3 separate regions of the Homo sapiens genome follow, and all the other regions are linked to region 3. Evidence: fine-mapped expression QTL. A gene starts in region 3. Each other region holds a variant in brackets. All regions are shown on one strand. Distances are from middle to middle.

Region 1 (8,183 bases), 850 kb before region 3:
TATTTAGAAATGGAGTCTTGCTCTGTTATTTATTTATTTATTTAGAAACGGAGTCTTGCTCTGTCGCCCAGGCTGGAGTGCAGTGGTGCAATCTCGGCTCACTGCAACCTCTGCCTCTCGGGTTCAAGTGATTCTCCTGCCTCAGCCTCCTGAGTAGCTGGGATTACAGGTGCACAGCACCATGCCCGGCTAATTTTTGTATTTTTAGTAGAGATGGGGTTTCACCATCTTGGTCAGGCTAGTCTCGAACTCCTGACCTCATGATCTGCCCGCCTCGGCCTCCCAAAGTGCTGGGATTACAGGCGTGAGCTACCGCGCCTGGCCGACTATTATTTTTTTAAACAAGTGTTGGCAAGGATGTAGAGAAATTGGAACCTTTGGTGCATTGCTGGTGGGAATGTACAATGATGCGGTCAATGTGGAAAATAGTTTAGCTAGTTCTTAAAATGTTAAACAGACAATTATCATATGACCCATTAATTCTACTCCTGGGTATATATCCAAAACAACTAAAAATAGACTCAGATACGTGTATGCAAATATTCACAACAGTATTATTCAGAAAAGCCAAAATACAGAAACAATCTAAGTGTCCATCAGCAGATGAGCTAAAGGCACTATGTCCAAACAATGGAATATTATTCCACTATAAAACGGAATGAAGTTCTGATAGACACTATGGCAGGGACAAACCTCGAAAATATGCTAAGTGAAAGCAACAGACACAAAAGGGCAAATATTGTATGATTGTTATTTATATATGAAATATCTATAATAGGTAAATTCATAGACAGAAAACATATAAAGGTTACCAGGGACTGAGGAAAGAGAGGAATGGGGGAAAAGAAAACAAAGTAAATGCATAGGTAATTTTGCTAGACATTGCCAAATTCACCTCCATGAGGGTGGTACCACAAGCACCCCACCAGCAATGCAAGAGAAGGTCTGTTTCTGAAGTCCTCACCAATGCAGTATATTGTCAGACTTTTGGATTTCTGCCTGATTGTTGACATGTTATCTCAGTGCAGTTTTAATCTGTATATTTTCTTACAATAAAACCTTTAAAAGATCCTTTCTAATTATGTTTTAACATGCTGGTATTGGTTCTTAAGTAATTACCATGAGAATTCCTTAGATAAATATTCTAAAACATTTATAAATTAAAGAGAATCAGCAAGGGAGAACCACACACATACATGTCATGGCTATTACAAATTCTAATTCTGGAAACAAAATTTTAAAAATTTTGCATAGTGCCACAGGTGAGCAGGTACTTAACTACCAGTACCTGCCATAGGCATAGTACTCTGCTAAGCAAACACTTAACAACAGAAAAGCCCAATTAACACTTGATAATTCTAGAAATTAAACACACTGTCACCCAATCATAACCCTTTTGCTTTGATTAGAATTATTCTAGCTAACTTTGGCAGTAAAACTGCCAGTGTACATGTTACTTCTCTAGAATTTTACTATATAGCCTGAGATATAAGATCAAAAACAAAGGAAAATGATTAATTTGTCAAAAGAACTGAATGATACAACAACTTTACCTTTCCATTTAGCAACCAGTTTAGGATCTGAAATTGTGAAGCTTGGACGGCTTCTTGAAAGAATACCTTTTCCAAAATAACCCTTCCAGGAAGAGAGAAAATGAAGTTAGTTCATGCTTAGTTACCAGTTTTTTAGCTGAGGTAGAATATACAGTAATCCCTCAGTATCCACAGGGGGCTGGTTCCAGGACCTCTGGTGGATACCAAAATCGGCAGATGGTCGAGTCCCTGATATAAAATGGTGCAGTATTTATATATAGTCTACGTAGGCCCTCCCATATACTTTAAGTCATCTCTAGGCTACTTATAATACCTAATGCAATGCAAATGCTATGTAAATAGTTGTTATATTGTTTAATATAAGAAAATAAAGTCCCCGTTTGGTACACATGCAATTTTTCTCCCAAAATATCTTCAATCCAAGGTTGGGTGAATCCACGGAAGTGGAACCCATGATATGGAGGGCCGACTGTACCCATCTGAGTTAACAAGAGGTTCGCCCCACTTTTCATGTCTTTACATTTTCCCTCTGATTATCTAATGATGACTAAGGATGTTCTTAGCGTAACACCTTTCTAATCGCTTCAAGAGTACTAGTAAGTTTTTAGCACACCTCATTTATCCCATAACTAATGCTTTCAGTCTAGGTCTGATAAGCCGAGGGCAGGCAGAGGCAGAGTTTCTTCTCTACATATGGTTCGGGAACACAGTGTGCCTGAAGGCAGGAGCCATGCTGCCCACTAGGTCCAAAAAAACCTCTTGGATTCTTTTGTACTCCAGAATTGAAGTATTCCTCTCATTCCTGCTGATTCCAAAAACAACATGTATTTTTCCCCTTTTCATTACAAAATATTTAAACACACAGAAAATTGAAAGAATAAAACAAACACCCCTTTCTCCATTTAGATTAACAATCAGAATAAAGAGGCCAGGTATGGTGGCTCACACCTGTAATCCCGGCACTTTGGGAGGCCGAGGTGGGCAGATCACTTGAGGTCAGGGGTTCAAGACCAGCCTGGCCAACATGGTGAAACCCTGTCTCTACCAAAAAATACAAAAATTAGCCAGGCATGGTGGCATGCGCCTGTAGTCCCAACTACTCGGGAGGCTGAGGTGGTAGAATCACTTGAACCTGGGAGGTAGAGGTTGCAGTGAGCTGAGATCATGCCACTGCACCCTAGTCTGGGTGACAGGGTAAGACTCTGTCACAAAAAACAAACAAAAAAAACACCCAGCAACAACAAAAACCAAGAATAAATAATGCATACAGCACTTTATAAAGCCTCTTGCTTAATGTTATATACTGTAAATGAAGGCCTCCCTGGTGAGCTGCCCTTGGCCTACTGAGACTCCTGCCTCACCATGGCCAGTGCCACCCACTCTTCTATCAAGTGTCTAGAGAAGGCACATTTATGGAGACAAGACGCCATTCCGTGGCTGCCTTGGGCCGGGAGTGGGAGCAGGGATTAAGTGTGATGGGCACAAGGGAACTCTGTGGTGATGGGAATGTTCTAAAACTGGACTGTGGTGAGAGTTGTGCAACTCTATAAATTTATGACAATCACTGAATTGTATACTTACAATGGGAGGACTTTATAGTTGTAAATTATAACTCAATAAAGCTGTTTTTTAAAAATGCCCACAGCAATGAACAGATTATGGAAAATTTTTTTTAAAGAACTACCAGTCTTCATTCAACTTGATCAATGCTGGAAAACAGTAAAAACTAGAACTTGTCCTCATCTGAGAAGAGGTCCCCAACCAGGAGGCAGCAGATAAGGAGCTCCATGCCAAAGCCCCATCTGATCCGTGCCTGAGTAGGGACACTATGCCACGCTGTGGCTACCTCTGGGAACGGGATGGGAGTGAGTGGGGAATTTTCACTTTTTTACCCATTACATTTCTGTAAATTACTTTTTTTGTTCCTTTAACAAACATGCATTGCTTTTACAACTAAAGACAAAAAAAATAGTCAATCCATTGAACCTACTTCATCACTGAAATAAAGGTTTGTGGGCAGGGGTGCTCCATCTGTCATTCTATTACCCTAACATATGGCTTTTGGGCACTAATTCAAATTGTACTTTTCCTACAACTGGACCAAACCGCAAGGAAAGAATACACATTGTTCATGGTTGGTGTGGGGGTATGGCTGGGATGGGGAGAAGGAAAGGACTGCTTGCTCAGGGTTGTCTGAAAGTAATCTTACCAAGGCTGCCTGCACTTACTTTCCCATAGAGCTGCTCAATGTCCTCCGCATTCCTCACAATCACATTGTTGTTAATCATTTCAGCACGGAATATCTTGAATTCTTTCAGAGGACCATGGTCCTGACCAAAAGGGATTGGCAATGGAGACTCGTAAGTCTCATACACTCTTCTTTTCCTCTTTGGGGCATGGAAAACTGCTTCTGCCATTTTTCAGAGGAGGTATTCTTTAAAGAGTAGACAACAAACAGAAAGAAACAGACAATCAATAACTACCTTGATCCAAAATGTGAGTACATCTGTACCTAGGCTCAGAAAACTTAGTGGTCTGTGGGAAGAAATAGAGTATTTATAAAGCAATAAACTAAAAGCAGTAAGAACAGTTTGTGTGAGCAATGTAAATCATATTGACCTAGAATACTGCAATTAATCCCCACAATAAACCCCAGGAAATGAGTGGTAATCTTTCTACTCCAGCTGACAA[C/T]GCTGAGACCTAGTGACATGCCCAAAGCTGCAATGTTAGGTCTCCTGAGAGCAAGCACAACAGGATTTCTGTCTACCAGGAGTGCTTCCATTTCACTCACCCAACAGACATTTACTACCAGGAATTCCTAATAATCATAGGTGCTGGGGAGACAAAGACAAAACTGAGACCCTGTCCTCAACAAATTAAATCTTGCAGGCACTTCATTTTCCAAGAGGATCTTACAATACACACTAAACATTGGGTCAATCAGCTCCCAATTTTTAAAGTACATTAATAAATAATAATGACAGCAGCAGTTATTTAAGGGTCGATTATATACTACCAAATGCTACTGGCTTCAAGCAGGGACTCTAAAGCCAGACTATCAGCATCAGAATCAACTTTACCACTTCCTAGCAGTGTGATTTTGGGCAAAAGTCACTGACTCTCTCTGTGATTTAGTTTCCTCACCTGCAAAATCAAGATAAGAACGACTCTATCTTACAGTTAAGATCCATAAAGTGCTTAGAACAGTACCTGGCACATAGCGTGTACCATTCATGTATCAGCTATAATTAGTATTACAGGGTGAGCAGTAGCAACACCATTTTACAAATAGGAAACAGATTCAGGTTAGAGAGATTTGTAGACGACCCCGAGTGTGGTGGCATCGGGTGACCCAGGTCTGTTGAACTCCCAAGCCCATGCCCTCTCTCTAGATTCTGCTGAAAGCACAGGCAGGGTCTATCTACTTTTGTCTGATGACTCTTTCTCAAAATCAGACGGTGAAGGGTTATTGAGCAGTAACGGAATTACCCACTGTGCACCCAGCACCATGAGGGAGAACAGAAAGCCAAAGCCAGTACGTGTCCCTCTGGGGCCATACATTGGATCCAAGGAGACAAAACAAGTATATAACATAGCTGGAAGCACAGAAAGCAGGTTGGAGCTAACGGAACTGGCTGTTATCCACTAATGTCTAAAGGAGGGAAGTAAATGTGAACATATTGTGTGATGCAGACACAGAGATACAGTAGATGCACTTAACCTAGGAAAACGTAACCATATACATGGGAAAACAATGTAAATGGTGCAAGACATTCCACTCGAGGAGCAGCTGTCCTGGAATGAGATGGGAAACTTGAATCTGCTGCTCCCCCAGTACTAGGTCTAGACTTGATTTCAACTGAGAGCTTACCTGGTGCTTGAAGATACAGTGCGGCCAAATCATACACACGTTTAACCTACATGACTCCGAATCCTCACAAGGGAAAAAATAAGACTAATTACTTAGGTGGCTCCTGCACTCAGTACTTGCATCCCATTGGCAAGGGATGCCATCAAGCCTGAAACAGTCAAGAAGGTGGCCAAAACTGAGGGAGGGGAAGGTGAGTGGCTTTAAGAGTGTCATGACCATTAAGAAAAGGCTTATCCAACGTGTGATGATATCAGTATCCAACTTCTCAAGGAAGAAGCTGAGGAATTATATGAGGACACAGAAAAACACAGACTAAAGAGGAGTTAGAGGAAATGATACATCAATTACAAAGATAACCATGAAAAAGAAGAATCGGGAAGTTGGAACCTTCCTAGAATTGCCATTGTTCTAAGCAGCAACATGCTAGATTAATTTCTAAATAAGGTTCCTTGAAGGAATTACATACTGAGCATTACTTTGTACATTTTATATTTATGCATGCATCTTGCTGTATAGTGTTTATAACAAAACCACGTCTACTGCATGCTCACAGGAAACCTAAGAGATTTTCTTAAGAGCATATTTAGACTAGGCTTTACCTTGCTTGCTGACTTATCCCTCAGCCCAAGTACTAAATTATCACATTTAGTACTCAATTGGAGAGACAATAATTTATTCTAAAACTGAAAATAAACACTGCTTTTTGGGGGCAGGATGTTGGTCTCTAGTAAGGCACTTTTTGAAAGACTTCCAGGAATGGTTTGGACTTTTATGGGATTTTTCACTTTTATAACCTCTGCTCAGCAGCTGACTTATATACATTACATTCGGAATTTTAAAAAAATGAAAAAAGATTTAATGGCCACCTTCAAGAAGTTCTAATAAATTCTCTCAACAAATAAGAGTTGTATTTTAGTCTGCCTCATTTGTTCAGCGTTTTTCCCTCTCAGACTGCTGTCACATCTAAAAAAGGCAAGATTTAGCTGTGACACTTGATCGAAAGAACTCTGTACTCCAACCCAGGTGTGTGGGATGGAAGGGTCCCTGCGACAAAACACCCCTCATAATCCAAGTTCTTGTGTTACTCTTGCTCATGTGGCTGCACACCCCTCAGGAATTTGGCTCGCAGTAGGCCTTCCAGACATGCAAAGCCGCCATTATTATTGTGTGACCTTGCACAACCCACTTTCTCTAAGCCCAGTTTCATCTTCAAATCGAACAGGACTGGAGGAGTCTGGCAGTTCCTCAAAATGTCAAACACATAGTTACGACATGATCCAGCAACTCCACCCCTAGGTATAGACCTAAGAGAAATGAAAACATATGTTCATGGAAAAATTTGTATGTGAATGTTCACAACAGTATTATTCATAATAGCATCAAAGTGGAAGCCATCCAAATGTCCATCAATAGTTGACCAGATCAACAAAATGTGGTCTATCCATATAATCAAATACTTAGCCATAGAAAAGGAATGAAGTTCGGATACATTCTTCAACACCTGAAAGCATTATGCTAAAAGAAGTCAGACACAAAAGACCACGAGACAATTAAGATAAAGTTTCCGGAATAGACAAATCCATAGAGACAGATTACCAGTTGCCAGAGACAGGGAAAAGTGGGAAATGGGGGGGCGACTGCTAATAAGACAGGAGGTTTATTTTGGAGGGTGACGAAAATGTTTTAAAATTAGATTGTAGTGATGGTAATGGTTACATAACTCCGCGAATACGAAGACCACTGACTCGTACATTTCAGAAGGGTGACTTTTACAGAATTATATGGTATCTCAATAAAGCTATTTTAAAAAATTCAGAAGTAAAGACATTCCCCAGGCCATGTCCTGCAAGAATGACTTCACAGATACCAGCGTGAAGCTTCTAGAAAAGATAGAAAGAAACCCTCAGGGAAGGTAGAGCTCACTTCCCCAGGGGGAAAAATTCAAGAGGACAAATCAGATGATCTCTAGTTTCATGGAAGAGTCCTCCTGTGCTGAACTCGAAAGGCAAAGCAGAGGAGAAAAGACTGCATTTACCATTCCCCATATCTGCAATGGATATTCAAGAAGGTTCTTTAGTGTCGCGGCAGAACAGCATGCTGTAAGAGGTGGGATGTGAGTAAAATAAGAAGAGGAAACTGTCATAGGTAGGTACCAGATGCCAGAGGCACTCACTGCATGTGCTGCACATGTGGGTACTATAGTCATCCCTTGGTATCCACAGAAGGACTGGTTCCAGGACTCACCCCCTACCAAAATCCGCAGCTCAAGTCCCTTAAATAAAATGTAGTATTTGCATGTAACTTATGCCCATCCTCCCATCTACTTTAAGTCTTCTCTAGATTACTTAGAATACCTAATACAATGTAAATACTAAATAATTGTTATATATATATATTTTTAAATTTCTTTTTCCAAATATTTTTGATGCAACATTGGTTGAATCCACAGATTCGGAACCTGATAGCGAGAGCTGACTGTACTATCCTCATTCCACAGATATGAAAGAAGAGCGGTGCCTGAGGTGCACAAAAACATATAGGAAAGACTGGGTCAGTTGTCAAGAGGTTTGGGATGCAAAGGTTGGTTTGGAATTGGAGTCACTGCAGGTTATTTAGAATGATGATTGAAAAATGCAGATTAAGAAAATTAAACCTGGGAGTGGTACATCACACAGTGGCCCTCAAGCTTACCTACCCTTAACTCCTCATGCCCAGGCCTCACCTGCAATCAATTACATCAGAATTTCCTGGGTGGACCC
Region 2 (8,183 bases), 91 kb after region 3:
GTTACTGTTTTTGTTTTTTTTAATGTAGACAATACAGCTTTGGAAGGGGAAGTCTCATACAGGTTATAGGTCTTTCTCTCTCTAGATTTCAGGTGCTTGCAACTGGACTGCAGACTCTACCAATCACGGGCATTTTATCTTCTCTGAACACTGCAGTTTGTTAGACTAGAGCTGAGGTTGGAGGATTCCATAGTGCTTTAAACGTGATGCATGTTTTAATGGAGAAAAAATAGCTGGTTTCTATTAATTATATAGACAGTAAACAAAAACCTTAATACTTACTATCTTCTTTTCAGAATTAGTTTATTTTTGTCAGTTACAGTCCTAGATATACTTACTGCTGGTACAGTTGTACTCTAAGATTGGTATTTGATATTCACTTTACTCACAAGTAGTGCGGGAGGCCAGCTCCTGGCAGGCCCTCGCGATGAGCAGTGGGTCAGCTGCGGTGTGGGATGCTGGAGTTTGGCTGCAGGCTGACATCATTTATTTTTGCATCCCTGTCTGCTTTGTTACAAGCTCCCAGGGGAGGTGGGGTTTGTGTCTTCCAACTTCCCTACATGCAGAAACTGCTCCCTTTGAACTCTCTTGGCTGAACAGCAGATTACTGACAGACAATCTGTGATATGGTGTTTTATACGCTTCCTCGTACGCTGGGGCCAAGGCAGTATACATTCCTCTGACTTTATACTGTTATTACTGCATTTATTATTTGCTATATTAATAGCTACTAACTAGAAATTAGATGAAGCAAGCATGACAGACACAGCTGTGGAGGTCACAGCTGCTCCTTTTTGGTCAATGAGCGTTTCTATCCCCTCCCCCTGGGGTGTGCTGTGTCCCACCTGGCCCACCAGAGGCTCACGACGATGGCACCTGACCAGGTGACGTGGGCGTGGTCACCTCACCTGCAAGGCTTTGTGGACTCTGCACACCGTATGACCCCCGGTTTTACAGTTTTTAGCTGTTGAATTTTGGAAATTGGCACTGGGTGAAAAGGTCGGAGGACTGGCTCTTGTAGTCACAGAGTGGCTGCAGGCCTTTGAAAAGTGGAGGAAAGAAAAGCCCTTCTCCTTGCCCCGCACACATTTCACTCCCACTGTACTGGGCTTCCAAGCTTTGGCATTCAGGCCCCTATATTTTCTGTAGGAAAAATCGTTGAGAACACTTTTCTATATGGGTGATTTTGAGACCATCGTTACGCTGTGCGTAAAGAATGTACAGAGAAATTTGTAGGTATTTTTTGAAGAACATTAATTTGTTAATGATATGTAGCTATTTAATTTTTCCCTTTCCTATTGTAATCATTCATTTTTTTTGTTGTTCGGAAAAAAAAAGTTGATCTTTTTTTTTGTCGTAGATTTGTCTGTAAAAGTGCAGGAACAGTTATTCTATGAGAACACTGCATCTGCATTCATAGCCACGAGTTTGTTATTGCTACAGGCTACTGAGCGTCGTAACAGGAAAACCACCCACAGCTGACCGGCTCGGTGGAGGACACTCCTGGGACAGGTCTCTTTGTCAGTGAACAAGGGCGTCACTCTGGGAGGGGTCGGCGGTGCTGGCGGCCGGGTCCCTGGTGCACTGACCTATCTGGGATAGGCAGTACCCTGGAGGGGGGCCTGGGGCAGAGGAGGCAGCAGAAAACCAAACATTTCACTGAGAAAGCCCCCTCCCTGCTCTAAGAAGGGGCTCCGTGAAGTTCTTCCCAGAGCCGCGCTGCCTGCAGTGCGCTCTGACCTTCTCTTCATGTGTGTAAATCTGTAATATACCATTCTCTGTGGCCTGTTTTTCCTGGAAGAAGAAAAAAAAAGGTTTGGCAGGCCATCTTTTTTTGTACTTAAAAGTAGCCTTAAGAACAATAATAAAGTGCTCTTAAACCACATAGTGTACGTGTGCAGTTTCAGCGCCAGGCTGGGTGGGCGGACTCGGGCCCTGCACCTGTGCCGGCTGTGTCCCCATGAAGCTCCCATGAGCTGAACGACAGCCACTGGAACTTGGACTGGCTACTTTGGGAGAAGCGAAGCCTCATTTGAAATCTACCCTACTAAATCCTACTGTTGTAAGGGTCAGCTCGACTCAATTTTCACTTTGATTCTGGGCCTAAGACAAAAGCTGAAAGAATAAAATAGCAGGAAAGACGATGCCCTCTACACGGGGGCAGGGTGGTCACAGGTACCTAGGCCATGGCCTCTCCTGGGTTGGGGCCTCACAGCTGCACACACCCAGAATAAAGAGGAAAACCAGCTCTTGCCTGAGTTACCCATGGTAGAGCCGTCTGACCCCTCCCTCGGCTGGGGCAGGAAGGCAGCCCAGGCTCGGCCTTTCTGGGCCTGGCCTGCTCATAAGGGCAGGGAGGAGCCCCATCCAGGCAGCTGCCAGGATCTGCCCCTGGGCTCTTCCCCCCAGCTCAAGGCAGCAGCAGAAACTCCTCTCCCTCAAGCAGGCAGGCAGGCACAGATGCTATGCCCACAGTGGAGGACAGGCTGGGAGGCAGAAAGCCATGTCTGAGCAGCTCACTCAGTCCTTGGTGGAAATCTGGCGTCACTGGGTCATGTGGGCCCTTTAGTCTCGTACCCAGCTCGGCTCTCCTCCTCCTCCCGCTCCACCAGGGCCAGGGTGCAGTGCGCTCACGGGGTCCCACCCTCACCCATGCCCAGGGCCCCCACAGGAGGAGCCTGCGGTGCGGTGGGCAGCACATTCCGGGGATGAGGGTGCCACCTCCCGCAGTGGCTCTGGGCAGGAGCTGGTTGCTCATTTCCCCATTTGGTCTGTGTTGGGTCACCCCCTCAGGGCCAAGGGGAAAGGATCCTGGGGGATGGCTATCAGTCACTGTGACAAGAAATAAAAACTGCATGGAGGACCAAGTCCCAGGTCAATAGCAAGGCCAAGGCCAAGGTTATTATTTAGCTCTGAACTGGTGGTATCTTGAATCCCGAGCAACGCCGAACACTGGCCACTCCTGGGCAGCAGAGGGGGGAATCCCAGACCTCGGGGTATGGAGGAGGGGCCCAGAATCACCAGGCCTGGGGTCAGCAGTCCTGCTCTGGCGATGGAGAGCTCCTCAGCAGGCGGCCGGGGAGAAGTCAGCCCCACAGCGGGGCCATCTCAGATGGTCTCATC[A/G]TCGCTCATGTCCCAGATCTGCATGGAGAAGGGGAGAGGCTCAGCCGAGATGTCCCACTGCCCGGTGGGGGGCACACAGATGCTTCAAAACCGCAGCAGTCATGGCAGCTCCCACCTGCAGAACCACTCCCTTGTTTCTGAGGGACTGTCACCCCATTTCTGTACAAGGAAACCAAATCTCAGACTTGCCAAGGCGTCACTAGTGTGTGAACCACCTGGTGGAACCAACAGGGGAGGGCTGGGATTTGCACTGGGGAATGTGCCTCTGCTCACCTCCTGCATGTCCACCTCGGGGGACCGTCCCTGACCCAGCCAGCCTCTGCTCATCCTGGCTTCTGCAGCACTCACCCCCACCCCAAGCCAGCTTGTTCTCCTTGTGGTCCACCTGCCCTCTGGAAGGCAAGCTCCCTGAGGGCAGGAATTCTGGCATGGGCACGTGCTGCCTTGGGAGGCTGCACCCTGGGCACCTGCTCCATGTTCCCTCTAACTGTAGTCCAGCTGCCCACACTCCCAACTCACACTAGAGAGCTGGCTCAAGAGCAAGCCCTCCCCACCAGCCAGGGTGGAGGTGGCCTGGAGCAAAGACAGTGGAGACAGCCAGATCCTGCCACAGTCCCTCAATGCGTGTCCTCCGAGTCTGAGCCTCGCAGTGAACCTGGGGAGCAGGAGGCCCCAACGTGGCTGTGAGGAGAACTGAGGGACCCAGCAAGAGCCACCCTGGCCGACACCCCCATGGGCCCAGGCCCATTCATTCCCTGCAGTCCTTGGTGTCAGCCCCCAGGGAGAGAGCCCAAGGCCAGCACAGCAGGTCCCAGGGCCCCTGGCACCCAGGGCTCCCTGGAGGGCCAGTCCCTGAACCTACGCCTTCAGACTTCCAAATTCCTAGAATTGGTTGCAAAAGGCCACCTCAGTGCTAGCAGAGCTGAGAGAAGGAACAGCATGTTTACACGAGGCTGGCCCGGGGAGATGGGAGGCCTGGCCAAGGTAAATATCAACACCAGCTTGGCTTTCAAAGTCGAGGATGTCGAAAATAAATAGAAGGAAATTTCCTCTCTCCTGAGGACCCAGCTCCCAGGCTGAGGGGAGGCAGCCTTCTCACTGCCCCTGTCTCCCGAGGCCAAACTATCTGAGCTCTTGGGAGGGGACTGCCAAGCGAGGTCTAGATGCCAGCCCAGCCAGGCTGTGGATGGGCCGGTCTGCGGTCCAGTGACCAGGTGTCCCTATCTCTGGGTCAGGTCCCCACCGAGCTCATCCTCAGTGCGGCTGGAAACTCCCCCAGGGTGGGACTGAGCAGTGCAGGGCAGGGGAGCTGTGTTTCTAACAAAGGTTGCATTTAGGAGCTCCTGGATCTGATCTCTGGGTTCTGATGGTCCGAGTGGAAGAAACTGAGCCCCTGGAGGGTTTGCCAGCACAATCCATCCATTCTTTCACTCTCCCATTCAACGAACACACATTCATGTAGCCAGCTCTGTGCCACACGCTGTGTAGACCTGCTGCGAATACTCCCTCTTTCACTCCTCACATCTACCTGTGAGGTGACCTCACATCTACCTGTGAGGTGAAGATGGAAACAAGCCCAGAGAGGTAAGGCAATTGGCCTGAGATCACACAGCAAGCAAGCTTCAGTGCTGGGAACCAGGGGTGTGTGGAAAAGGGCGGGGCGGGCTGCCTGGAGGAAGGGGCCGAGGTGGGAGGTGATGGGGCAAGATGGAGAATGAAAAGGGTGAGCATTGTGGGCCGTGTCCTCCGGGACCTCCTGCCCAGCCTCCTTGGAGGGCTGCCAGCCTGGGCAGGGCAGGGTCAGTACCAAACAGCAGTGCCCTCTGCAAATGGGTGGTTGGGGTTGTTCTGTTCATAAGAGGACTCGGGCCTGGGCCGGGGCTGGGCTTTATAGGAAAGTAGAAACTTTCAGGGAGGTGTTACCCATTTTATCATCCATTTTACTGGGTTTTTAGCTATGGGGAAGAGGCATAGGTGCTCAGCCACACTGGGACTGGGTGGCCTGGGACTGGCCCTGGAAGGTGCCTGGCTGACCCCTTGCTCCTGGACAGATTGAGCCACTCGAGGGGATGCGGCTGCTGGCAGTGCCTGAGCTGTGCAGGGGATCCTGCGAGACACCCAGAAGACTTATTGTGCGGGGATTATTATTTTGTAAAATGCATTTTACAAAACCACTCAGGGATTTTCCAGAGCGAATCTCTGGGGCAGGGACGGGCTCTCCACTGGCTTCGTCCCATTGGCTGGGCTCAGAGGGCAGCAGCCATCTTCATTTGAAACCTCAAGAAATAACCAGAACAGGGACTCCTGGGGATAGGGACAGGGACTGGAGTGGGACTGGGGGCTGGGATCTGCAGGCTCTACTGTGTCCTCACCGCAGCTGTGTCCTTGGCAGTGCAACTGGTGTGGAGAAGGGGCACAGTGAATGTCCTCTTAGTGAAGATCATAGTAAACTGGCACATTTTAAAAAATATCAATACTCAGTGCCGACAAGGGTATGGCAAAACACTGCCACAAGAGAAGTATAAATTGGTACCATATTTTTTAAAAGATTTGGCAATATGTAATACAAACCTTTAAAAACATTCAACCCTAAGGAAAAATGATCTCTTTGTAGGTAATATCAAAGCACACCTGGAAACCCCAATAAAATAAGTGCTAAGATATCCTTAGAATACAAATGAAAAAGTATTTAGTAAGAGCAAGATATAAAATTGACAACAACCAATTATAACCCACCACATGCAGTGCAAACAATGTTTAGTTCAAAACAGAATGAAAGAGGCCGGGCGTGGTGGCGCACGCCTGTAATCCCAGCACTTCGGGAGGCCAAGGCGGGTGGATCACTTGAGGTCAGGAGTTCGAGACCAGCCTGGCCAACATGGTGAAACCCCGTCTCTACTAAAAATCCAAAAATTAGCCAGGCGTGGTGGTGGGCACCTGTAGTCCCAGCTACTTGGGAGGCTGAGGCAGGAGAATGGCTTGAACTCAGGAGGTAGAAGTTGTAGTGAGCTGAGATCGCACCACTATACTCCAGCCTGGGCGACAGGGTGAGACCCTGCCTCGAGAAAAAAAAAAGAAAAGAAAAGAACCCATTATATTGGCTGGGCACAGCGGCTCGTGCCTGTAATCCCAGCACTTTGGGAGGCTGAGGCGAGTGGACTGCTTGAGGCCAGGAGTTTGAGACCAGCCTGGACAATAGAGCAAGACCCTCTCTCTATAAAAATAAAAACTTTAAAAAAAATTATAAAAGCAGTGAAAAAGCTAAACACATGGGAATAAACCTAACATCGGATGTACAGAATCCATATGAAGCCTCTAAAACAGCTGCGACAGTCCTAGAAGAATCTCTCCTGGAAAGACGTAAACTGGAGTAGATAGAGCCACACCCCTTGTTTCTGCATAGGACGATTCAACATCCATAAAGATGTCAGCTTTCTCAAAGTGAATACATTAACAAAGTCTCAATTTTCAAAGTTAACAAATGTTTTCTGGAGCCGGGCGAGCTGGTTCTAGGCTATGTGGAAAAACAGGAAGCAGACACACCCAGGAAACCCTCCGAACAGAAGAGCGGTGAGAAGCCCCCACCATGGGCCGAGGGAGACGCCATGAAACCCCCGAGGAGGAGAGGGTGCGTCAGCACGGAACACTCAGACGGCCCGCAGGACACGACGAGTACAGAAACGAGAAGACCATGTCCAAGAACATGTGGAAATCAAGGATTTTAATGATAATGGCCTGGGGAGTGCCATCTCGGCTCATTACGAAAAGATAGACTTTTTAAAAAACTGATATGAAGAGAAGTAGAGAGTCACTTGGAAAAAGATAAAATTGATTCCATGCCTTACCCCGCATGTTAGAATCAACTCCAAATGGGATAAAAATCCAAACGTTAGAGAAAATGAAACCATAAGAATACTAGATACAAACACGGGTAAGCTCATTATAGCCTGGGAGTAGGGAAGGCCTATGATCCCAAATCCATAAGCAATAAAAAAATGGATACACTGGACTCTGCAAAAACACATGCATGCAATATGCACGGGAAAACAGTCAAAAAGGCAAACTGAGAGAAAACATAACAACATACCATAAAGGGCTCATCTCGGTAATAGACAAAGAGCTCTTAGAAATCAAGAAGAGAGGCCAGGCATGCCTATAATCCCAGCACTTTGGGAGGCTGAGGCGGGAGGATCACTTGAGCCCAGGAGTTCAAGACCAGCCTGGGCAACATAAGGAGACCCTTTCTCTACAATAATTTTTTAAAAATGAGCCAGGCATAGTGGCATGTGTCTGTAGTCCCAGCAACTCAGGAGATAGGAGGATGGTGTGAGCTTGGGAGGTAGAGGCCGCAGTGAGCTGTGACTGCACCACTGCACTCCAGCCTGGGCAACAGAGAGTGAGACCCTGTCTCAAAGAAATAAATAAAATTCAAGAAGAGAAAGACCAATAGACCAAATTTTTAAAAAGTGGACAAAGACACGGCCAGTTCTCAGAAAAAATAAGCAAATGGCCCTTAAACAGAAAAAAAAAGATGCACAGCCCTACTCATAATAAAGGAAATGCAAAGGTTTCTTAAGACACAAAAAGTACTAACCAGAAAAAAAAATGGGTTTGCATTTCACAAGAATTAAAATTTCTGATCTTGGAAGGATACCACTGAGAAAATGAAAAGGCAAGTTGCAGACTAGGAGAAAATATCTCTATATTAAAAGAACTTGTATTTAGAAAATAAAGAGAACTCTTACAACTTAATAATAAAGAGACAAAAACTTGATTTTTGGGGAAAAGATTGGAAGAGAAACTTCACCAAAGAGGAAATATAATGGCAAATAAGAAAAGACGTGCAGTTTGCAGTCCTCAGGGAAATGCAAATCAAAACCATAAAGAGACAGTGCACCCCACCTCCTCGGAGAGCTGAAGCTAAAGGCCAGCGATGCCCGATGTCTGTGAGGATGTGGGGCAGGAAGGGCCCACACACTGCTCCTAGTGGGGATGGAAACTGGCAAAACCACTTTGGAGGAAGGTCTAGTGACTGTTTAAGTGTGCGCTCACCATGTGAT
Region 3 (8,183 bases):
TATTTTTAAATGTTCTTTGAATACCAAGAACATTTATCCTTCACTGTAATATATGACACAAATATATTCTTCAGTTTTGTATTTTGCCTTTACTTGGTTTTGGTGTTTTTAGATGTATAAAAGCATAAAATCTGTATTCTCAATCAAATTCTACATCTTCCTTGGTGGCTTCTGTCTTTGATTAAAAATTTTATTTCTGGCTTAGCAAATGTTTTCCTATTCCACATCAGATAGTCTGAACATATCCTTATAGTTTTGTAAGTTTTTGCAGCAAAAACCTTACTTTAAAAGCATCTAAATAATCTTTAAAACATTTGGGATTTATTTTGATGTACAGTATAAGGCAAAGTGCTATCTGGATTCTTTTCTCAGTAATGTTTGTTTTGTAATCCACTTCTTCCCCATTGGCCTGGATTTCTGATTCCTATATCCACAGTATCTGTCTGGTCCTACCTAGTCTCTACCCAGTAACACTCCAAAATATATTCTTTGCTTTATGTTTTAAATATTTGATAGATCAAACTTATTCATTCGTAGAAAAAGAACTAGCTTTTCCCATCTCATTTGTGTGTGTGGATAAAATTTAGACCCATCTTTCCAATTCCCTACAAAACTATCCTGTTGCTACTTTAATTATGAATATATTATCCTATGAATGAATCTGAGAAGGATTGATATTTTCTAGTATTTTTTTTTTTTTATGGATGAGCTGATTGTACCCTGAAGTACAATCAGAATCTACATGGTGTTTCTTAAAGGCAAGGACCTGTGGTCTCCAAGAGATGTTGACAGCCACCTAATGACATCGAGTAAGATAATCCAGAGTGTGCTGGAAGTAGGGATGGGGAAATGAAGAATCTGCCGTTTAGATGTTTACTGATTTTATTCAGCTGGTATTTATTGATGGCCTACCATGCGCCAGGCTTCTGCCAGACTTCTGCCAGACTGACCTCGAAAAGGTGAGGAAGGCATAGTCCTTGCTCCGAAGATCTAGGCTAGGAAAGAAGCACATATAAGGTATGGGTTGAGCGTCCTAATCCAAAAATCTGAAATGAAAAATGCTCCAAAATCTGAACAGTGTTGAGTGCTGACACAACATTCAGGTGAAAATGCTCATATTGGAGCATTTCAGATTTCAGACTTTAAAATTAGAGATGCTCAACTGGTAAGTATAATGCAACTATTCCAAAATCCAAGAAGGTCCGAAATCCAAAACACTTCTGGTCCAAGTATTTTGGATAAGGACTACTTACCCTGTAAAAGGATAGCTTGGCGTAGGGTGTGAGGAGATGGTAGGATGGGATCGTAGGGAGATTTCACAGGACAAGAGGGGCTTTCTGACAAGTCTCAAGGAAGAGTGGATGTTTGCTGAGTAGACAGGTTGGGAAAGAAGAGACGTCCTGCACACCGAGAAGCATACTGATGTGCTTTGTGGAATAACTCACTGCAGGTCATCCAGTGTGCTTGAAACTAAGGTGAAAGTTGTCAGGAGCTGGGATGGAAAGGCCTAGAGCCGGTCCAGGAGGCGCTCCCAGCCTGCAGAGGCGGGCTGTTGTAGCTGGCCCCTCTGGAGCACAAGCTTCTCTGTGAAACCAGGTTTGTTTCATTTTTCCCCAAGACTTTGTTGCAGACTGATAGTTTATAAAATGTAATGCAGCCCTATAACTAGAAATACGAAAACTACAGCCCTCAAATTTCTTTAATATTAAGATTTGAGAGACATAAAATTAGTCTATCGAATTGCTATAAAAGTTTTAAATGTTCATTCTCCGTTTCTGTATCTAGCTTTTGGGGACTAGGAACACCTGGTGCTCGAACCCCTCTGGATCACACTTGGGTAGCACCGTGCTAGCCTCCCGGATCAGCGGGAAAGACGTGGTGGCTGTGGCTGGGAATGTTACAATAGTCAAGGTAGACCTGTGAGACGGTGTCCACGAAAATGGTTGCCACCCGGAGGCTGAGAACTGCTGTTCTAAGTGATGCTGAGTCCCTTAAGGGACGTTACCAAATATTTTATTCATTTTCTACAATGGTATTGTTTGAATCATTTGCTTAAATTACTATTAAAAAAATTCTTCATGTCAAAATAAGTGAATAAAATGAAATATCTTAAGGCAGGGTTTTTTTTTTTTTCCTCCCTAGATGAAAGCAATGGTTCTCAACCTTGACTGCATATTGGAATCACCTGGGACTTTAGAAGCTACTGCTGCTGGTTCCCACCTCAGATGAGTTGGGGATGCAACCTCAGCAGCAAGATTTTTAAAAGCTCCCCCCTGGTTCTAATGTGCAGCCACCTCTCTTCCATGTGGGACAATGATGGATAAAGTTTTCTGATTGAGAATTTATGTAAAAACGTAGCACAGTAAGAGTACTCCAAAACTATCAGTTAAATTTAAATCTGATACCTGATATTGTTTGTTTTCAGTGCAATGATCTCATGTATACTGGATGTTACGAGTTTTGAGTTTTCTTCAACCCTCCCCACCAAATACCATTAAGTATTTTAATTACAATTGATAGGATACATATCTTTCACTATAGCTTATTACATGTAATATAGTGTCAATAAATATTCTTATAAATGAAAGCTTGTGAAATCTTGATTCCCCTATTACTTACTTCCCCTGATGTCACCCCAGTGATTACTGTTGCAGCAATGACGGCAACAGTATTTAGTATTTAGATGTCATATAGTTTTTTTGTTTTGTTTTGTTTTTTGAGACGGAGTCTTGTTCTGTCACCCAGGCTGGAGTGCAGTGGCACAATCTTGGCTCACTGCAGCCTCTGCCTCCCGTGTTCAAACAATTCTCCTGCCTCAGCCTCCCTAGTAGCTGGGATTACAGACACATGCCACTATGCCCGGCTAATTTTTGTATTTTTAGTAGAGACAGGGTTTCACCATGTTGGCCAGACTGTTCTCAAACTCCTGACCTCAAGTGATCCGCCCGTCTCAGTCTCCCAGAGTGCTGGGATTACACGCGTGAGCCACCGCATCCGGACTCCCAAGTAAGATTTCATTAGAACACCTTGCCATGAGTGTGCCTAATAAACCCAATGCAACTATTGCTGGATTTTTTTTTTTTTTTGAGACGGAGTCTCGCTCTGTCGCCCAGGCCGGACTGCGGACTGCAGACTGCAGTGGCGCAATCTTGGCTCACTGCAAGCTCCGCTTCCCGGGTTCACGCCATTCTCCTGCCTCAGCCTCCCGAGTAGCTGGGACTACAGGCGCCCGCCACCGCGCCCGGCTAATTTTCTGTATTTTTAGTAGAGACGGGGTTTCACCGTGTTAGCCAGGATGGTCTCGATCTCCTGACCTCATGATCCACCCGCCTCGGCCTCCCAAAGTGCTGGGATTACAGGCGTGAGCCACCGCGCCTGGCCTATTGCTGGATTTTTAACATACAACTCCTTCAAATTATTTATTCAAATATTATTTTGGAATATTAAAAATATATTTTTAGAATAGTAATTCAAATGTTTAGTTTTTGTTTTTTTTTTTTCTATTTTGTTAACACGTTCTTGATGTGCTGAAAACTGAACATTCAGTGGTTCACTCGTTCAGTAAACAGTTTTTGGGCACCTGAACTTGGTTGTGCTAGGCACTGGGTAATCAAAGTTTAAGCCCCAAGTTCTTCCAATAGCAAATAGTACAGCTGCATGCCACTAGCTTCTTACACACAGGTGGGTGACATACATGCCAAATGAAAATAATTTTACCCTTTCCCTCTATAATTTCAAGTACACTTTTAATTTTTGATATTATAGCCCTATTTGCTTAAACACTCTTCCATCTCTTCTCCTCTCCTTGTCTCCTTTTTTTCTTTTCTTTTTTTTTTTTTTTTTTGAGACAAAGTCTCACTCTGTTGCCCAGGCTGGAGTGCAGTGTCACGATCTTGGCTCACTGCATCCTCCTCCTCTCAGGTTCAAGCAATTCTCCCACCTCAGCCTCCTGAGTAGCTGGGACTACAGGCGTGCGCTACCACACCAGGCTAATTTATGTATTTTTAGTAGAGATGGGGTTTCACCATGCTGGCCAGGCTGGTCTTGAACTCTTGACCTCAAGTGATCCGCCTGCTTCGACTAGGATTACAGGTGTGAGCCACTACACCCGGCCCCCTCGTTTTTTTAAATAAAATTATAACATTAGGTGGGAAAAAACACTTTAAAAGTAGTTCTGTCAACTATTTTGGGGGCTGTGGGCCAGTCATTTAATCCATCTGAACCTGTTTCCTCTGCTGTGAAAGGGTGATACCCTCCTTGCCCTGTCCATCTCAGTTGTTATGGGGATTATGGAAGAAGCTATATGTAACATTAACATCAGAAATTTAAATATCCAGTTAAAGTGTAAATGGATATTATAAAACAATCTTTAAAAGAAACAAAGACACTATATATATATATATGGCTTATGCATCACTAGCACTTTGGGTTTCCGAAACCCCAACATGAAGTTTCACGAAAGTTGCATTCCATGGGAGTTTGCTTCCATGATGGATTTTTTACTTTGTACTTAGCTCCTGAAAAAGAAACTTCCTGGGTTTTCTTTTTTCCTCCTACGGTTTTGCAGCGGCTTGGCTGCTTCCTGTCAAGAGCCACTCTGCCAAGGCCCCGTCTCTAGAGTCTCTCCCCCTCCCCTTTCTCTTTCTTTCCAACACTTGCTACATTGAGAGGCTGATCCTGTGCAGAAGCCCTCCCTGCCTCGGCAGCGCGGCGCAGTGAGCATGCTCGGCCTCCTGCGGGAAGAGGAAGCGGCGGCATAGGAGTCATGCCAAGCATAGCCCTCATGTCAGCGCTGCCGGCTTGCAGCGGGCTGTGAGAGGGGCCGGCGCCGCTTTGTCCTAGGAAACGGGCTGCGCGTTTCTCTTTTTCACTCTTTTCCATTTCCAGGAAGGACTTGTAAGGACTTCTGAAACGCTGTTTTCATACTCGATCGGGGATACAGTACATACACCGTCTACCAGTAAGCCCTTGAAGGGTTTCGTGTGAGCTCGATTTTTTTGTGCCTGATTTTTTTTTTTTTAACTTTTGCATACTTTGTTTTGATAGTCTGAGGCTGGGCCTCTGCCTTTGTGAAGTTGAAGAGCCAGGAGCTACTCAGCAACAATTGATTTTTGAAACTTAACTCTTTTGGGGCAAAAGCAAAGAGCTGGTTTTCTTTGCTAGCCCAATAAATGCTATTTATGAAGATGGACCTGTTGAACTATCAGTACTTGGACAAGATGAACAACAATATCGGCATTCTGTGCTACGAAGGTAGATGTCCCGTTGTAGAATTACTGCCCGTTGCTCGTCCCGGCCACTCCTCCTCAGTGTGCTGGGTGCCTGCCTTCTAAGCGCCCGCTGTCCTCCTCCGGGGTGTAGGGCACTTGAAAGGCCGGCGTTTCTTAGGTTCGGTTCGGCACCGAGTGTGTTCGGATCTCAGGCTGCGGGGGGCGGTGGAGGGGGCTGGACGGGGAGGCAGTGAAGTAGAAACCCTTCAAAGTTTGCTCGTTGCTTGCAACGTACTCGCGCCTCACATTTTTAACTCTTTAAAATGTATGTATTTTTGATTTCCGTTAATATTGTCTTTAGGGGAAGGACTTGTAGGACGCCGGTAAAAGTTGAGCCTCTTTGGGGGAGGGGCTGGTAAGGATTGCACCGTCTACTGTACCCTGCTGTGGGCCACGGCGCCCTGCAGCTCACGGAGGGGGAGCCAAAGTTACAGCGAGTTTTTGTGCTCGCGAGTGAGCGTCCCAAACAGCGGAGAATGTCCCTCTCCCGCGTGGGGCCGGAAGGGCACCGTGTCAGCGAGCACAGGCGGGCTCTTTGTCTCGCTGGCGCTTCCTGTGCAGCCCGGGGAGCGCTGACACTGGGGGGTGTTCCTCGCGCTCCGCTCCCTGTGGGAGCGATTACACAACACCCCGACCCCCAGCCTGCCCTGAAAAAGAGAGAGCCGCGCCGAACTGTTATTTATTACCTCCTACTGCCCGCGAGGTGCTTCCCCCACTGTCTTGTATTTCCAACTGTCTCTGGTAGCAGTCAGAGAAAAATCTATTTCTTAAGCCCTCGGACATCCTCTACGTGCGATTTGAAAAAGTGGCAATGGCCCTGGGTCTGCCGCCGAGGGCATCTCCGGGGGAGTTCGGCCTGGCAGGAAGAGTGTTTTCTGTTGTAACCACACACACATCCGGGACTCTTCTCTTTCTCATTCAGCAGGAGCAGTTTCCATTTTTTCTCCAATAATACACGGGACATTTCTCTTGAAAAAGAAAACAGTTACAAAAACTTGGGAGGGTGATTCACTTGTATTTTTTTAATCTAAAAACTTCAGGCCTGTTTCCTAATCAGTTGAAAACTCACCCTTTCAAGAGTATTTTTCCCCTTCAAGGAAAAAAAACAACAACAACCCTCATTCACGTTGTTTTTTAAAACTCTATGGATGAGGATCTCATATTTAACGTTTTTTAAAAAGAGTATTTGTTTTTCTTTACTCCTACTAGTTCCTGCTATGAGAATTTTCGTGAATTTCTTTCTTTGCATCTGATGTGTTAAGTAACATCTTGCTTCTGAACTCACTTAAAAAAGGCAGCCGACTTTAGAAAGCCGTAAGCAGCCATTGCTGGGCTTGTTTCCCGTGACATTCACACATTGTAGTCAGGGTTTTGTTTTTCTTGTTTTTTTTTTTTTTAACCATCCCCGCTTCCCCCAACAAGAAAGAAAAACTTCTGAGGCAATTTCTGTTGTATTGTCTTTGCCAACAAGTAATACGATATTTTAAAAACAAAACATAATGGCCTAAGAGAGAAATATAAGATTGTTAGGAAATTGATACCAGATTAGTTTTTCCTGTCTCCGATTGGTGAGGACCAACTTACGGACAGCGAGCCCAGGTCGAGTTGTTGTGTAGCATGCAACACCCAGGAAACTAGAGTGCTCTGCTCTGCTCTTCTCTCTCGGTATTTGGGAGGAAGAAACTTTGATTTTGAAGATTGAGTAGCTATATGGGATAATGGGCTGAAGTCTGTTTGGTTTAAACATCTGCTCCTATTTTCCTTATTATGAGAGTTAACATTATTTTAACACCAGAATAAATACAGAGGAAATGAAGGAAAGCACAGCAAAATTTGAGTGGTGTTTATAGTGAATTGTTGATGTCCTAGTGGTTTTCTCAGTGTAAACACTGCACACATCTGGTCTGAACTCCAGAGGGTGTTTTGAAGATGGGCATAAATCACACACGGGATTTTTTTGTAGGAAAAGTTGGAAAGGTTATGGTTCTTTAAAATCCAACACTTGGACTTGGAGAATATTCGTTTTAAACATATCAGCTCCCCAGCATTCCAGGGAAGTTGTTTGGAAAATGGAATGTACTGTTGGTAGGCAACATTTGATTTCATTTAGGGCACAGTCAAGTTTCATGCCCCTTAAGAATAAGGGACAAATTAATTTTATGACATTTTAGTTTTAAAAATTAAGATGCGGATGGTTAATTATTCTTACCAGCTAAATTATACCATATTCCTTAGTTGTATGAGACATAGCTCTACTCTAAAATAAACCATGTGTCTGGTCTTTTTTTTTTTTTTTTTTTTGGTGATGAAGTCTCGCTCTTGTCCCCCAGGCTGGAGTGCAATGGCGCGATCTTGGCTCACTGCAACCTCTGCCTCCCGGGTTCAAGCCATTCTCCTGCCACAGCCTCCTGAGTAGCTGGGATTACAGGTGCCTGCCACCATGCCCGGCCCATTTTTGTATTTTTAATAGAGATGGGTTTCACCATGTTGGGCAGGCTGGTTTCAAACTCCTGACCTCAGGTGATCCACCCACCTCAGCCTCCCAAAGTGCTGGGATTACAGGCATGAGCCACCGCACTCAGCCTGTACTGTCTTTCTTAAACCTCTCTTGTGACTTAATACGCAAATCGATCTTTTTAGCCGTTTACCTTGTAGCATACAAGGTCTTCCTTCCTGACTGACTCCATATTGCTTAGATGTGGACTCCCTCCTTGGTAACTGCTTCCTGGCTCCTGCCCTCCACCATAGTTGTCTGCAAGAATAACTGAAAAGAATAAAGGGAAAAAGTTAACCACAATTAGCAGGTTTGGGGTGGGAGAAGGAGACGTTAGGGAGAGGGCCGGAAGAATCGAAGTCTGGCTGACTTCTGGAAGCTAACTAATTCCCTTCACTAATGATGAGCGGATTAGTAGA

Evidence for each region.
Region 1: its variant is fine-mapped to the expression of VGLL4 in caudate (GTEx, PIP above 0.99).
Region 2: its variant is fine-mapped to the expression of VGLL4 in whole blood (TOPMed, PIP 0.98).

The regions. Positions count from the first base shown.
Region 1 is chr3:12,485,588-12,493,770 of GRCh38, reverse strand. TSEN2 (tRNA splicing endonuclease subunit 2) reads right to left here. Exons shown (of 12, transcript NM_025265.4): 2 at 3,782-3,987; 3 at 1,554-1,635. The coding sequence starts at 3,970. Among named protein-coding and RNA genes, the nearest start is that of TSEN2, 5.2 kb to the right of the region's middle. The variant C/T (reference allele first, on the strand shown) is at 4,245.
Region 2 is chr3:11,549,769-11,557,951 of GRCh38, reverse strand. ATG7 (autophagy related 7) reads right to left here. Exons shown (of 21, transcript NM_001349232.2): 21 at 287-3,141. The coding sequence ends at 3,109. VGLL4 (vestigial like family member 4) reads left to right here. Exons shown (of 5, transcript NM_001128219.3): 5 at 1-1,883. Among named protein-coding and RNA genes, the nearest start is that of VGLL4, 90 kb to the left of the region's middle. The variant A/G (reference allele first, on the strand shown) is at 3,124.
Region 3 is chr3:11,640,507-11,648,689 of GRCh38, reverse strand. VGLL4 (vestigial like family member 4) reads left to right here and starts at 4,775. Exons shown (of 5, transcript NM_001128219.3): 1 at 4,775-5,253. The coding sequence starts at 5,172. RefSeq lists enhancers at 4,552-4,631, 5,822-6,191.